Regions from separate parts of the Homo sapiens genome. Here region 2 is linked to region 1. The links come from fine-mapping of genetic effects on gene expression. A gene starts in region 1. The other region holds a variant in brackets. All regions are shown on one strand. Distances are from middle to middle.

Region 1 (5,382 bases):
TCTCCAGTATAGCAACCAAACCTTCCTGAGCATAAGGCTGATCATGCCACTGGGTTTCCCTGGGGTGGGCATCTGTTATTTAAAGAAACTGTGGTTACCAACACTAAAGGGAAATAAAGAAAGTTCTTTATTTTCCAACTTCCTATACCAGTTGAGAAGAGGCCATTTAAAGAAGCTGGCAACCTGAAACCCCAAAAGATGTAACTAATACAAAGGCTCAACATAGCTGCCATTTAGAAACAATCTTTCATTTATGCACAGGAATAATTTACTCATAAGCCCAGCCCTCTCAGTTAGGTTAATAACACCACTATCAGTTTTCCAGCTGTTTACTTCCCTAGCTTTATTTCTAGACATGAGAAATAAGGAACAAAATATATAATTAGGAAAACAATTGGAATGTCAGCCTACGGACAAAACTGAGACAAAATTTATATAAGTAGAGAGTATATTGAGGTCAAATTTGAGGACTGCAACCAACGAAACACCAAATCAAGTTGCCCTGAATATATACAGCAGTTACAAGTGGGTTTTTAAAAGAAAAAAGAGGCAGTTTCTAAGTTGAGAAGAATTTATATTAAAATAACATAAACTATATAAACTATTGATAGGCTAAACATTGTTTTTTTGTATCACAAATTCCAGGAACATAATGAGTGAGGCAGTTAGTCAGGAACAAAATGTCTTTAAATAATTACTCCTGCGCATGCGTACGGGGGGACGTGACTGAAGTCTCACACTCCTATCTCTCTGGGCCTGATAAATTGTGTAGCCTTCACAAAGCTCAGATCGCTCTGCGCTATTTTTCTTTTTTCAGGGAGTTGCACAGCTACTGACAGAAAGCACATCTTGGTTTTAGTCCATAGTACAAAACTCAATTGTGATCGAATGTTTTCAACTTCCTTTCATAATAAGGTTTTAAACTCATTTCAAATAATTAGATCTGGTTCTAATGAGCTGAAAAGCAAGAGAAATTCTTGCGTAAAAAAGGAAAAATATTTTTCCCCTTTTCTCTCTGTAGTTCTGAAATCCAGTGAAATTACTCATTACTGAAACTTATCAGATGAAAATATTGGCCAGCATTAAATTCTTTTCCTCCCCAACCCCCACCTCTTTTTTTCCTTTTTCTAACCACCACCCTTTTGTTAGGCCAGCTTAACTAGCTTTACATCTCTGAGCCTAGCCTGAGGGGCCACATCCTGTGTCTGGAATGTAAAACCTCTCTCCCCACTAGGCCTCCCGTCTTCCCTCCACACACACACACACACACACACACACACACACACACACACACACGGACTTCCCTTGCCTCCAATCCCATTTACATGTGTATCATTTTTAAATCCCCATCTAAATTTATTAAGTCATAATACTCACTTACCATTTTTGTACACATGCTACTCAGTGTATATCCTATGTTTCTTATCCAAGTTGCCCATTCTGCATGTGTCTGTCTTAAAATACAAGCTCATGCATGACTTAAGCCCGGAGAATTTGCTGAGGACAAAGGCAATCAAGATGCCATGTGCAAATAACATTTTTTTAAAAAATCAAGCTTGTGATAGCAATACATATTTAAGAGATAAGTGGAAAGATGTTTGAAATATTGTGATAAAACTAACTTAATGGAACCTTCCATACTTCTTCGATCATACCTAGAATACAATCATTTCTTTCTTAATCTTAGGAAATATCAGGAAACAGAAAAGAGACTACTTGTAGATATCTTACCTAGTTCCCCATGTTATAAAAGTATCTTGTGGAAGGGACAGGGGTTTTTGGACCTACAAAAACGCGTAATTAACCACAACTGCACATGGACAGGAAAAAGCTGGAAAAGCAAGACTGTTCATTCTTAGTTTTCTCCTTTTACTTACTAAAGCTATAATCAACTAAAGTGTGTTTTTCATCTGAAATGAAACAAGCATGAGGAAGCCAGAAATAGAACCTCTAACTATAGAAGAAAAGTTGTGTGATCTCTGTTGAATACAAAAACGCATAGTTTCCACTCGGTTACTGTTTAATTGTAGTGAAAGTTTTTGTTTGGCAACAAAGGCGCTATTTACATATTATTTCTTCTAAGTGAAACTATGGTCTGGGATGGGTTGTAGATAAGAGCAGTTGAGAACCACGCTTCATCTCCCTCCTTAGAAACTCTGAAACGAGGCTTTATTCCTACCAGAAGTTCAGATTGCATTATGGTCATCTCAATTCCAAAATGTTAGATGGCAAGAATATCTGCCCATCCTTCACTTTCCTTGGAAAAAGTTGCTCTTCGGGTTTTATATGCGATTGCAGTTTTCCAGTGTGTGAAACTAGGAAAACAAAACACTCAACGGTGTACATCCCTACACCTAAATAGTCAGAAATAATAGGCAGCTAGGCTAATTATCCTTGATTAGCAAGATCAGAGCCATTAGGGTGCTCACTGGTTTAACAAATGAATGCCCTTAGGCGTCTATCATTTGTAACTCCTAGAAGCTTTAATTTCCACAAGAAACAAAATAAGAGGGGCCTTCTGCTTTTAACAGTGAAAAGATCGTTCTCCCTCCCCTCTCCACCCGGGTCAACTCTTCCAGCCGCTCCCTCCTGCATCACGAACACACGCTGCAGGAAAGCGCATTTACAGCCCGGGACATCCCCAGACCTCCTCTCCAAAATTCCCCACCTCCTGTGCATAGGAGAAACTGAGAGAAGCCCTCACTTCCTTTCCAAACTTCACAAGCAGGGGAGGGAGCTGTAGCAGACTTTCACCTCCGTTCCCAAAAGCGAATGTGAAAAAGTCCGAGAAGGCACGTCCTGCGAGTGGAGGTTAAACCGAAATCTGAACAGAATGCACGGTCCCCGCAAACTACGATTGATAAAGAAGATACTGAGACGTTTGCGGGGGATATAAGCCATGGTTGTCTCGCCTTCCTCCCCTCCCTGCCAACTATGTTTCTTGGAGAAATCGCCGGTTCGATTCACGCACACATTTTTGTAAAACACGGACAAAACCATAAGTAGTTACCTTCATTGTTCCGTCGGCCACGAGGGAAGCTCGAGCTGAGCGGAGGGCAGATCCCAAGGGTCGTAGCCCCTGGCCGTGTGGACCGGGTCTGCGGCTGCAGAGCGCGGTCCCGGCTGCAGCAAGACCTGGGGCAGTGCCCGAGGCGGCGGCGAGTACACGTGGCGGGCTGGATTGCAGACCGGCCCTCTCGCGGCGGAGACTCGCGACCTAGCGGATTGCATCAGCAGGAAGACACTAAGGCTGCTCCCCCAGGCCGCCCCCAGATGGTGGAGTCTCTCCCAGCCCGAAGATTCGGAGCCAGCGCCCAGACCCGAGCCTCACTCACTGCTCACTCCCGGGGTGCAGGGCAGAGGTGCCAGTGTTGCAAGCAAATGACACGGTTACCCCCGAATCAGCCACTGTGGGTGCGTATCCGAGTGTGGGGATGCCCGTGTAACATTTATATGGAGACGTCAAGGAGGAGGAAATAAACAGATCAGAGGTCAAATGTGATTGCCATTCCGTCATCACTGGCTCCTGCCCACCTCCCTACTGTCCCCAAAGTAACTTTGCTGCATGCTGAGAGGACCACGGCACAATCCTGCCCAAAAGTATACATGTATCCCCCGCGGCTACTTTAAATGTACTTTTGCAGTAGTCAAGAACATGTGCCTGGTTTGCCGATCTCTTTCCCAGAGTTCCTTAGTCACCCTCAAATATAACCATTTTTGCCAATTTATTATGTACATGGGGGAAAATTTTTAATCCTTTAATTTGAGCATATAAAATTCTTTATAATGTGAAATTGCCCAGTAGCCTAGTTGGTCCCCTGTAAGTTCCCTCCCCACATCTATACAAAGCTCCAGGATTGCTACTTTTCCATGTCCAGCGCCTAGGTCAGCCTCCATGACTGCTTAAGTGTGCTGCTGGTTGACCTCCGCTGCCTCTCTGTCAAGCTGGCAAACTCCTATTTTTGTAAATTTCAACCCAAGTCTTTGCTGTGGAAGTTGCTTCCAATGCCCTCAAACAGAACTGGGCCCTTGGTCTATGTGCTGCACTTTGTCCACATCCTTTCTCAAAATCAATTATTTTATTTTATCATTTTTTAATGGAGATGGGGTCTCACTAAATTGGCCAAGCTGGTCTTGAACTCCTGGCCTCAGCAATCCCCTCGCCTCCGCCTCCCAAATTGCTGGGATTACAGATGTGAGACTGTGCCCAGCTTCTTAATTTTACTTTAATTATTTGTTTGCACAGTTGTCACTTCAGTGGATTATGAGATTCGTAAGGGCAGATCCTTTGTCATATTTATCTCCCATACCAAGTGGCCTGCCGTGGAAGAGAGGGAGTGTTGAAAACAAATGTGTCAGTGCTTAATGACTGTTGGTCAGGTGAATGAATGGTTAAATTATGTGTTCAATAAATGTACTGAGTGATTTCTACATGCTAGGCTGGTATATAACAGTGGTTTGTAATCTGAAATGTCTCAAAATGGAGCCATTTATGACAAGGGTTTCAGCCTCCAGTGAAATTGCTGACCCCTCAAATTGATAAGCATATGTATGGTGGACTGAGGTGATAAGATAACACCTGCTGTGGCCTGGCACCATTGGCAAGAGAGTAAAGAGAGAGGCAGCTGAGATAATGGCTATGGGCACTTGCGGATGCTGTGAAAACCAAAAAGTAATGAAAACCTGAAAGTAACTGACCACAGCCAAAATGCTTGCAGAAGTTCTGCCCTGAGAAATCTGTATCTGTAAGCATTTAATCAGCCATTGAGTCCTTGTGAAACCTCCTGGCCCCCGTCAGTGAAAGCACAGCTAGATAGATTTGAACCTGACACTGACATGAGACAGGCAATGTGCAAAATGCTAGGGACTGAGTGGGAAACAACAAAAATGTTCTTACCCTCATTAAGCTCATATACTAGTGTGAGAAACAGAAAGTAAGCTTTAAATCAGGTAGCAAAATGTTTATCAACTGAGGAATGGCTAAATAAAACATGGTATCATCCATACAATGGAATATTATTATATTCTGCAATAAAAAGAAATGAAGTACTGATTACATGCAGTCACATGGATGAACCTTGAAAACTATGCAAAGTGAAAGAAGCGTCTCACAAATGACTACATATTATATGATTCCACTTATCTGAAATGTGCAGAACAGGAAAATCCATAGAGACAGAAAACACATAGTTGTTTTCAATCTGGGGACAGGGTGGAATGCAGAGTGAATGTTCATGGGCGTTGGATTTCTTTTTGAATTGATTAAAATGTTCTCAAATTAGATTGTGGTAATGGTTACACAACCCTGTGAACACACTAAAAACCACTGAATTATACCCTTTAAATAGGTGAATTGTATGTTATGTGAATTATATCTCAATA
Region 2 (5,382 bases), 37 kb before region 1:
GAAGTAAAATGAGCAATTCTATGTACTGTGTATGTAGTTACTGTATCATTTGCCTAGGACGGTAGTAACAAAGTGCCACAAACTGGGTAGCTTAAACCCACAGAAAGTGATTGTCTCATAGTTCCAGAGGTGAGGTGTGGACAGGCCCAGCTTCCTTTGGAACCTGTAGGGGAGAATCCTACCTTTCTTCTTCTAGCTTCTGGTAACCCAGGTGTTTCTTGGCTTGCAGCTGCCAACACTTCAATCTCTCCTTCTGTTGCATTGTGTTTTCCCTTCCTGTCTGTCTGCTTCCTGTAACTGCTTTGATTAATGGACTATGGAGAAATATGGAAGTGACACTGTTCTAAGACTAAGCATATACACTAACTGGCCAGGCAGTTTCTGCTTTCTTCCTCTTGGAAGGATCTTGGAACTACCCCACCTAGAACCCAGTCACCCCAGCTATAAATAGCCCAAATCACATGGAGGAGCCACGTGCAGGCTCATTAGTCAACAGTGCAACATCCAGCATCACTGTCAGCCCTGTGAGTGGCTGTCTTAAACATCCAGCCCAGTCAAGCCTTCAGATGATGCCGGCCCCTCATGACTGATTAAAAACACATGAGAGACCATAAGGCTGACTCAGACTGCTCAGCCGGGCCCAGGCAATCTAGAGACCATGAGAGATAAAAATAAATTATTGTTGGCCATGCACAGTGGCTCACACCTGTAATCCCAGCACTTTGGGAGGCCAAAGCAGGCATATCACCTGAGATCAGGAGTTCGAGACCAACCTGGCCAACATGGTGAAACCCCGTCTCTACTAAAAATAAAGGAAAAATTAGCTGGGCTTGATGGCGGGTGCCTGTAATCCCAGCTCTACGGGAGGCTGAGGCAGGAGGATCACTTGAACCCAGGAGGTGGAGGTTGCAGTGAGCCGAGATCATGCCGCTGCACTCCAGCCTGGGTGACATAGCGAGACTCTGTCTCAAAAATAAATAAATAAATAAATAAATAAATAAATAAATAAATAAATAAATTATTGTTTTAAGGCCACAAAGTTTGGGGTGGTTGGTTATATAGCAATGTTAACCAAAGCAGCATGCAAACCTAACATGCTTATTTCATTATTTATTTAAAAACCTAATAATAATAAATCATGCCCAAAAATAGGGATAAAAGGGTGAGATAAACATGAAATAAGTAATCCTTTAAAATATCTTTCTAACTATGGTTATTTTATTGTACCAGCCCTAGCTAAAGGCCCAGTATACACAAGGGCCAAGTAATCAGTAATGACAGTGATACAAATCCTTCTTTTAAAGTCTTCTTGATGATCAAAATTGTGTCACCCACTATTTGTCAGTTCCGATGAAATCATTGTTGTTTTTTTAATCTCATGATATGGTTAATGGAGAACTTATAATAAGAACTGGGGCCAGGCACAGTGGCACACGCCTGTAATCCCAGCACTTTGGGAGGCCAAGGCGGCCGATCACCTGAGGTCAGGAGTTTGAGACCAGCCTGGCCAACATGGTAAAACCCTGTCTTTACTAAAAATACAAAAATTAGCTGGGCATGGTGGCGAGTGCCTGTAAACCCAGCTACTCAGGAGGCTGAGACATGAGAATTGTGTGAACCTGGGAGGTGGAGGTTGCAGTGAGCCAAGATCGCACTACTGACTCCAGCCTGGTGACAGAGTGAGACTGTCTTAAAAAAAAAAAAAAATTGAAAAAATATTAGTTATCATGAAAAACATGACACATTTCCTTGTTTTACATTACTAATATTTTCATTATTATTCTGGCTTTATCCTTTTAAATTTTTATTTATGTTTGTTTAGAGTTTTTTTTGCAGACATCTCTTAAAGCCAATGTCCCTTTTGCAAAGATTATCAGTTAACACCAGATGACATAATCTGTAACTCTCCTTAACCAGGCTCACACAGACCGCCACAAATCACAACCCTCTGGAAGAGAATGAATGCGCAGGGCTACACAGGCAACCCCCTGGGAGCAGGAGCTATGCCCTCCTCTCCCCTCAGGACCCTGCTCGAAGTTTGTGACAGCGTGGCAGGGTGACACACAGAATGAGCACGTGCCAATCTATGTGAGTTAAATACAAATACAGTTTAATCTTTCCCACATGTTAGAGGAAAAATAAACATAAGTTCTTCTGACATTCCAGTGGAGTCTGTTGCATATCTCAATATATACACACCACGATGAAACTCACTCTGCGAGCAGACAAAGTGCAAATTCCTGAGCTTAGTCTGTGGGCTCCTGCACTTGCTGAATCACCTGACTCCCTCTTCCCTCCCCACCCCTCGTCCTCATTTGCACTTCCCATCTTCTTCTGCACAGGGAGGAAACCCTAAGCGTGGCAAGCCTCTAGGTCATCTCCAGGTACCTTAAAAAGGAGTGACAGATGGACAGAGAGACAAACACATGAAGATTCTGGATAAAAAGATTAGGAATTTCATTTCCTGTGTGGAAAACAATTAAGCTTATAATTTTGCGTTTTACAGAAACAGAATCACTTAACTTCTGAAAGGAGAAATTAATCCTAATTAAATGAGGCTGCTTTTTTAAAATCCAGATATTATATACTGGATTGCTTTGGAGAAAATTTTGTTTTATACCAGTACCTAAATAGCTTTTAAGAGTTCAGGTTAACCTATGCTGAGGAAATTAATAGCAAAAAGAAAAGGCCACAATCAAGACGGAAAGGATTTAAGTTTTATTAATGATTATTAAGTGCATTATTTATAGTAGAATCCACAACATATGCTCACGAAAATAAACCAGTTCTAGTAAATACATGATAAATATAAAAAATTAGAAGAGGGCTGGGCGCAGTGGCTCACACCTGTAATCCCAGCACTTTGGGAGGCCGAGGCGGGCGGATCACGAGGTCAGGAGATTGAGACCATCCTGTCTAACACGGTGAAACCCCGTCTCTACCAAAAAAGAAATACAAAAAAATTAGCCGGGCGTAGTGGTGGGCACCTGTAGTCCCAGCTACTCGGGAGGCTGAGGCAGGAGAATGGCGTGAACCAGGGAGGCAGAGCTTGCAGTGAGCCAAGATTGCGCCACTGCACTCCAGCCTGGGTGACAGAGTGAGACTCCATCTCAGAGAAGAGAAATGGTTGATGCCTGACAATGAGCAATATACATACACCCAAAGGAGAAAATGGGGCCGGGCGTGATGGCTTATGTCTGTAATCACAGCACTTTGGGAAGCTGAGGTGAGAGGATTGCTTGAGTCCAGAAGCTTGAGACTAGCCTGGA[C/T]AACACAGTGAGACCCCATCTCTAAAAAAAAAAAAAAAAAATGGAGAACGTGGGTATTTGGGAAGACAGTAATCTTTTGGAAAAAGTGTTTTTCCTATGAATGTGATATATGTTCAAGAAAATAGACTGACTTATCTGATATATACCTTGTGGCAGCAAAGGGAATACTTCCCCATCACTTTCTTCAGAAGGTTGCTCAAAATCATTGACAAGGGGCAGATTAATAGGAGAAAAGTCATACAAATTTATTTGATCATAATTTTATGTGACACGAGAGCCTACAGAACGAAGACCCAAAGATATAAGGGAAACTGTCCATTTTTATGGTGAAACCCTGTCTTTACAAAAATACAAAAATTTTAATGGACAGTTTTTGTTTTGTTTTGTTTGTTTTTTTAAGAGCAAGGAGAGTATGCTTTTTAAATGCCATTGGTTCATGTGCCACAGAACCTAAAACAGCTTCAAATGGACACCAAGTAAAAAATACCAGTTTTCAGAAGTCTGTCATTATGTATTTACACAAATTACATAATCCTGTATGTATTTACAATTACAGATTATCAAGTAGATAACACAAAGTTGTAGTGTTAATGAGACAAAATAGAATAAAAACACCACAAGGAAGCCATTTGCTTATCTACCAAGCAGGACCTAGCAAGGCCGATCCTGGCATGTGCTTCAACATTGCTTGGGGACATTTATGTGACAGATGGGAAGATTTGTTCAGTCTGTGCTAGGTAAGTCTTTGACCACAGTGCAAACGTTGGCACCAAGTAGATGGTAGTTTGGCTGTCTGAGTATCTATTTGTGAAACTGGAACCCCCCTTCCACGATGGCTCAGGGTTGCCATCCAACAGGCTTTGGGCCTTTTACAACAAGAACTGGATGCAAACCCATGAGCTGGGGATGACTCACTCTATTCCCCAACAGACAATGCCCAGGCCAAAACCCTGAGCCCCCTTAGGTTAGGTTAAACAAAGTATGGAGAGCCACGTAGAAATATGATTGGACAAAAAAGGTATGGTCTAATGCTAATAGACTGAGCAGGGAAATCCAGCACAGCCTGTCTGTCTGGACCCTTCTTGCCTCTCTGAGCATGCATTTCTTCCTTCTGGGTGTGGTGCTGGACCCTCTCTGGAATGGGGGTCTTATAACCTTCAGTCAAACAAAGTGAGTCAGATAATTTCTTTATGGCCTTACACAGACAGGCTGGGGGTGGTGGAAGTTAGAGTACTATTTTTAGGTTTTATGGTTGGCTTTGGGGAAAAGGGGTTTTGTTTCTATGGCCCACTTTGGGGAAGAGGGGTTGTAGTCTTGATGGCTAGCCTCAAGGGAGAATGAAAGGTCAGAGACAGGAGAGCAGGAGCCCAACATTCCCCAGTTGAGAAATTGGGTTGGTAGATTATCTTTTTTTTTTTTTTTTGAGATGGGGTCTCACTGTATTGCCCAGGCTAGAGTGCAGTGTCATAATCTCAGCTCACTGCAAGCTCTGCCTCCCAGGCTCAGGCAATCCTCCCACATCCACCTCCCGAGGAGCTGGGACCACAGGCACATGCTACTATGCCCGGCTAATTTTTTATATTTTTGGTAGAGACAGGGTTTCACCATGTTGCTCTGGCTGGTCTCGAACTCCTGAGCTCAAGCAATTTGCCCACCTCAGCCTCCCAAAGTGCTGAGATTACAGGTGTGAACTACTGTGCCCAGCGGGTGGATTATTTTATAAGCCATTGAACTAGTCTTGCAGTCGTGAGAACAGGCCGCTCCAATTAAACGGTTAACAGTTATATCTCATTTCAGGCAGTGGTGTTGCTTCCACCAAAGTCAGGCCTCTATGAATCAAGCAATCAGATGTTTAATAAAAGGCATTTCCATGAAAACAAAAGAAAAACAAAGATTAACATCTGGAGTTGTCTATAAACTAATTTTCCTAGAGTCTCTGAAGTAGCTTCAGATTGCAGTGGCAATCTTACAGATATTTCTGGATTATAGTTTGAATCAGGTGTTCAAGTAAACCTTCTGAGTAATCCATACATCAGCTGACATGAACACTGCTCATATATTAAGTTGCTGTCATTATTTCTTCCAAAGTTTATATCAAGTTGTCTAGCTAAAG

The links. PIP is the estimated chance that this variant, and not a neighbour inherited with it, causes the effect.
Region 2: its variant is the best candidate, but not a certain one, in a credible set for the expression of BCAT1 in whole blood (Lepik 2017, PIP 0.53).

The regions. Positions count from the first base shown.
Region 1 is chr12:24,945,917-24,951,298 of GRCh38, forward strand. It overlaps BCAT1 (branched chain amino acid transaminase 1), which reads right to left and starts at 3,185. Exons shown (of 11, transcript NM_005504.7): 1 at 3,011-3,185. The coding sequence starts at 3,016. It overlaps BCAT1-DT (BCAT1 divergent transcript), which reads left to right and starts at 3,247. Exons shown (of 3, transcript NR_199054.1): 1 at 3,247-3,414. RefSeq lists enhancers at 3,079-3,428, 3,549-3,638.
Region 2 is chr12:24,909,408-24,914,789 of GRCh38, forward strand. The region is part of intron 1 of BCAT1 (branched chain amino acid transaminase 1); the gene reads right to left. Among named protein-coding and RNA genes, the nearest start is that of BCAT1, 37 kb to the right of the region's middle. RefSeq lists a silencer at 2,048-2,342. The variant C/T (reference allele first, on the strand shown) is at 3,270.